Regions from separate parts of the Homo sapiens genome. Here region 1 is linked to region 2. The links come from fine-mapping of genetic effects on gene expression. A gene starts in region 2. The other region holds a variant in brackets. All regions are shown on one strand. Distances are between the middles of the regions. Region 1 overlaps ACSS1 (acyl-CoA synthetase short chain family member 1). Region 2 holds the start of ACSS1 (acyl-CoA synthetase short chain family member 1).

What was found.
Region 1: its variant is fine-mapped to the expression of ACSS1 in whole blood (INTERVAL, PIP above 0.99).

What each region holds. Positions count from the first base shown.
Region 1 is chr20:25,026,535-25,029,439 of GRCh38, forward strand. The region is part of intron 3 of ACSS1 (acyl-CoA synthetase short chain family member 1); the gene reads right to left. Among named protein-coding and RNA genes, the nearest start is that of ACSS1, 30 kb to the right of the region's middle. The variant C/CA (reference allele first, on the strand shown) is at 1,245.
Region 2 is chr20:25,056,549-25,059,453 of GRCh38, forward strand. It overlaps ACSS1 (acyl-CoA synthetase short chain family member 1), which reads right to left and starts at 1,591. Exons shown (of 14, transcript NM_032501.4): 1 at 1,221-1,591. The coding sequence starts at 1,554. RefSeq lists enhancers at 687-816, 1,467-2,072 and silencers at 917-1,186, 1,317-1,846.

The sequences.
Region 1 (2,905 bases), 30 kb before region 2:
CCCTTCAAGTCAACCTGACTAATGTCCCAGATGTCATGGAGCAGAAAACAGCCATTCCCCTGTCCCCATCTGATTCCTGTCCCACAGACCCATGAAATAGAATACTAAAATTTATTGTTTTCAGTTTTATTAAACACTAAGTTTTGGAGTAGTTTGTGACACAGCAATAGAAAACCAAAACAGCCCCTCATTGACCCAACAGGACACAGATACCCATCTCAACAGAATCTTGTCCCCAGGAACCTGGTACCTGCAGAGCTGCACAAAAAGGCTGAAGGATATCAGGGCAGAGTCCTCTTCAGGACAGAGTCATGGCCCCTGCCCTCCCATGCTTGGTTGTTTAGGAATTCTGAGGTTCTGGGAGCTGCCCCAGCATCCAGCTACTAAATCCCCACATGATGAAGTCACCAAGAGTCAACTGCTATTGCTTGTTTCAAACAATCTCAACAGAAGCACTGGGTGACCATGGCCACACCAGCAAGAGAGAAAAGGGGCAGCTTAGCATAATGCTGAAAGCATCAACTATGGCAGCAGAATGTCTGTGTTCAACTCCTGGCTCTGTCACTTACTAGGTATGTGACCTTAGGTAAGTCACTTAAACTCTCTGTGTCTCAGTTTACCCATCTTCTTCCCTTTCTAAAGACCAGAACCAGATGACTTCACTGGTGAATTCTATGAAATATTTAAAGAATTAGCACCAATCCTTCTCAAACTCTTCCAAAAAATTGAAGAGGAGATACTTTCAAATTCATTTTATGAGGCCAGCATTACCCTGATACTAAAGCCAGACAAAGATTACTATAGAAAAGAAAACTACAGACAAATATCTCATATAAACAATGATACAAAACTCTTCCACAAAATGCTAGCAAACTGTATCCAGCAGCATATTAACAGAATATACTATGACCAATCAGGACTTACCCTAGGAAAGGAAGGGTGGTTCAACATGCAACAATTAATCACTGTAATACATCACACTACTACAATGAAGGAAAAAACACATCTCAATTGACGCAGAGCAAGCATTTGACAAAATCCAACACCCTTTGATGATCAAACACTTAAAACTAGGAATAGAAGGGAACTTAATGGATAAAGAGCATCTGAAAACCCACAGCTAACATCATATTAATGGTAAAAGACTGAAGCCTTCCCCCTAAGATCAGGAACAAAACAAGGATGCCCACTTTTCACCACTGCAATTCAACATTGTAAACAAAGTTGTTGCCAGAGTGATCAGG[C/CA]AAAAAAAAAAAAAAAAAAGAAATAAAAGACATCCAAATTGGAAAAGAAGAAGTAAAACTATATTCAGAGATGATATGATCTACTATGTATAAATCCTAATGAATCCACAAAAAAACTATTTATTAGAGCTAATAAATCATTAAATTTGCAATATACAAGATCACTATGCAAAAATTGCTGTATCTCTACATATTAGCAATGAACAATCTGTAAAGGAAATTAGGAAAACAATTCCATTTATAAAAATTCATAAAAGAATAAGATACTTAGGAATAAATTTAGCCTAGGATATGCAAGACTTGTACACTGAATACCACAAAATATTGTTGAAAGAAATTTTAAAATACTTAAATAAATGGAAAGATATCCCATGTTTGTGGATTAATATTGTCAATATGGCAATACCTTCCAATTTTTCTACAGATTGAATGCAATCAAAATCCCAACATCTTTTTTTGCAGAAATGGAAAAGCTAATCCTAAAATTCCTATGAAAATACAAGAAAGCAAGAAGAGCCAAAACAATCTTGAAAAAAGAAGAACAAAGTTGGGAGACTCACGCTTCCTGGTTTTAAAACTTACAAAGCTACAGTGTCAAAACAGTTTGATACTGAGATAATAATAGATACATAGGTAATCATATGGATAAATGGAATAGGATAGAGAGCCCAGAAATAATCCCTCACATATATGGTCAAATTATTTTCAACAAGAGTACCAAGTCCATTTAACAGGGAAAAGAACAGCCTCTTTAGCAAATGGCGCTGGGACCACTGGATAGCCATAGGACAAAGAATGAAACTGGACCCTTACCTCACACCCTGTACAAAAATCAACTCAAAATTAAAGATCTAAATGTAAAAAGGTAAAACTTAAATTCTTTGAAGAAAACATACGAACAGGGAGGCCGAGGCGGGCGGATCACGAGGTCAAGAGATCGAGACCATCCTGGTCAACATGGTGAAATCCTGTTTCTACTAAAACTACAAAAATTAGCTCGATGCAGTGGCACGTGCCTGTAATCCCAGCTACTCGGGAGGCTGAGGTAGGAGAATCACTTGAACCCAGGAGGCGGAGGTTGCAGTGAGCTGAGATCATGCCCCTGCACTCCAGCCTGGCAACAGAGCGAGAATCCATCTCAAAAAGAAAAAAAAAAGAAAACATAGGAAAAAATCTTCACAGCATTAGATTTGGCAATGTTTTCTCAAATAATACAGCAAAGACACAAGCAACAAAATAAAAAATAGATAAATTAGACTCCATTAAAATTTAAAACTTTTATACACCAAAGTTTACTACTGAGAAAGTGAAAAGACCACCCACAGAATGGGAGAATATTTGCAAATCATATATCTGATAGAGGTCTAATATTCAGAATATATAAGTAACTTACATACTCAACAACAAAAAGACAAGCAAGCAATTAAAATATGGGCAAACAGCTTAAGTAGACTTTGTCCAGTGAAAACATACAAATGGCCAACAAGTACATAAAAGATGTTCAATATTATTAGTCATTAGGGAAATGCAAATCAAAACCACAATGAGATACAACTTCATTCTTACTATGACGGCTGTAATTTTTTAAAGTGAAAAACAACAAGATGCAGAGAAACTGGAGCCTGCATACACTATTAGTGGAAATGTAAAATGGTGCATCT
Region 2 (2,905 bases):
TCGCTACTGCTTATGGGTCACCAGTAAGCGCTGGGTCTGCTGCACACCTTGCAGCACTCAGCCTAACCTCTGAGCATGACTGCCCCCATCCTCACAATGAGGAGACTGAGGGCTGGGGGGGCAGAACAACAAGGACAACTGAGGGAGGAGTTGGAGAAAATGGGGCCCTGGTGACCCTGCCATAAAGACCCGCAGGTCCTTTCTTAAACACTCCCAAATCCAGCAAGCTGGTTATGACCACCCTTCTGGTCTGCATCCCTCTGATCAACACCGTGTCTGCCAGCCCCTCCCCGCAGGCCCCACACCCAGGCCCACCCTGCATCCGGAGCCCACCTCGCACTTGGCACCCACCCTGCGTGGCCAGCCCTGCCTGCAGTTCAGGGCCTCCCCCTCGGTGCCCAGTCAGCGCCTTAGGTGGGGGCGAGGGTGCTGTGTACGACCCCCAGCCCCAAATCTTAGCAGAGCAGCAGGGCCTCTGCTCAGCAAGTTCCAAACAACTGACCACCAGTCAACTGTTTGGGGCCGACGTCAGACCCCGCGGGTCCAAAGCAGGCCCCAGGTCGCTGGGGTGCAGTTCTCTGAGGCCGAGAACGAGAACGGGGAGGCCGCCGTTACTTCCTTCCCGTCCACAGGCCCCAGGCCCCAGGCCCGCAGCGAAGAAATAACTGGTTCCAGCTGCCACGCCGAGTTTCCTCCTCCCCAGGTCGCCCGCCACAGCTCTGTTTGTTTACGTGGGCAGGGCTTGTCCCCAGGCTGATCCCCGGGCACCGCAGCCCGCAGTGACAACCGCCACCGCTTTGTTTTTCCCTCCACCCCGGTATGGGAACGGGAAAGTCCCGACTCCGGGGCGCTCGGGTGTAGCCCGCGGCTCCCCGCCGGCTCTTGCTCAGCGGCGCTATGCACCCGGTAACGCAACTCTGGAGTCCGCCGAGCGAGGAGCCGCGCCGAGCAAGGCCAGCAGCGGGGCGTCCCAAGCGGCCGCCGGGTCCCCGCGGGCGCCGGCCCGAGCTGGGCACGTGGATCTGGGGCCCGATGGGATGAGGGACGGGGTGACGTGGAGCCACTGCTTAGAGCGGGCGGGGCGGACGGAATACCGGAGGAGGGGCCCCTGCAGGGCTGCGATCCGCGCTGCCCGGGGACGGCTGCCGCTGGCGAGAGGCTCCGAGTCCCCTCGGGACCCAAGAGTTGGGGGCGTCCTGGGTCTCCCGAAGCCCACTCACCAGAGACATTTAACTGGCCTCCCAGGAACCAGCCGATCTTGCCAGTGCTGAAGTCGCAGTCCCAGACGGTGTGGTAGGGGGTGTCCCACACGAGAGTGTCCCGCGCCAGAGGCCCCCAGAAGGCGGCCGGCTCCCGGGCTGCCTGTGCACTCAGCGCGGGATACGAGCCTGGCTGTGCTGCTGCTGCTGCAACTGCGGGAGCGCTGCCCGAGGGTCCCGAGGCCGCCCTGCGCGGCGCGCTCACCCCGCACGGCGGCCGCGCGGGCTGCCCCGAGAGCCCTCGCAGGCTGCCCAGCAGCCTCCCGACGCCGCGGCCCAGGGTGCGCGCCGCCATCTAGGCAGGCTACCTGAGCTCTCTGTGCTCCCAGAGTGGGTGCCTCACGCCCGGGGCGCCCCGTGGAGTCTCCGCGGGCCCCGCCCCTGCTCCGCCCTTCCGCCACCATCCATTCCTCCAGGGCCCCCTCCCGGAGCCCGCCCGGGTCCCACCCCTTCTTCTGCTGCCCGGGAGAGGGGGGGCCGCTTAGGAAGAGGGGAGCAGCGTGGGGAAGGGGTGCAGGGGAGCGCGGGGCGGAGCAGGGTCCCAGGCCCTGGCCCAGGCGCTGCGCTCCGGTGAGTCTGCGGTCCCACCCGGATGTTCCTCGAGTCGGCCTGTTTTGGTTTCAGTTTGCACGCTCTCCTGCAAGCCCCGACAGCTTCTTCGAGCTGCCAGAGGCACGTGCGGCCCAGGACCCCAGGACGCAGGCTCAGGGCCTGGGGCGAGGGGACCCTCTGGGATGGGGAGGAGCCGGGAGGGAGCCGGCACCAACGTTAAGGGGGCTGGTGCACCCAAGCGCACTGGTGGGTCCCAAGACAATAGGTCGGTCAGTTCCGCATCTCAGAGGCTGAAGCCAAGGTTTTCATGCCTTTGTGCGCCCCTGAGAGTGAACCCCACCCCTGGAGTCTCAGCAGCACGCGAAAGGGGCTGGCGCCTTTCTAGGCTCCCGCCTAGAAGCCAGGAGGCTGCGCAAGCCTGAGTCCGTGTTCTGGGTCCCATGCTCCAGCCCCCCAGCTGCCGGCCTCCGTCCTGGCGGGGGTCACGTCCTGCTGGGGGTCGGTGGTGGGTGATATGGGGCGATGAGGACTTTCTCCAGTTGCTGCAGCATCTGTAGCCTGAGTTCAAACTCTGTGACCTTGAGCAAGTTCCTTAACTTCTCGGTGCCTCGTTTTCCTTTTGGGGAAGACGGAAGTAATGTCTCCCTGGGGGGCGGGGACGGCGGGGGTGGGCAGCTGCAGTAAGGAATACATTGGACAATGTCTGTCAAGCGTCTACCCTTGCGTGGCCCCATAGTAAGCTCAGTAGTGGGGATGATGTTTTTGCAGCTGTGGAGCCAGGAAGGACAGAAGGAAACGTATAAAACTGGTCTCCACCGAGTTCTTAAATATTCTGACACCCAAGAAGTAAATTCATAACAAACGGGTAAACACAGGGAAGAGAGATTTTGGAAAACTGGTTTATTGAGTTCTCTGTGATGGGAAAGTTTCTTTCCCTTGAGCTGTAGGGCTTGCAGAGGGGAGGAGCCTGCCATTGGAGGAGCCTCTGCGTGGGCTAGCCACCAGCCCCTGCTGGGGAATGCTGCTGTCTGCCAGAGAAGACAGGAGTGTACCTAGAGCTGGAGAATCAGTGACATCTACTAGCATAACACATG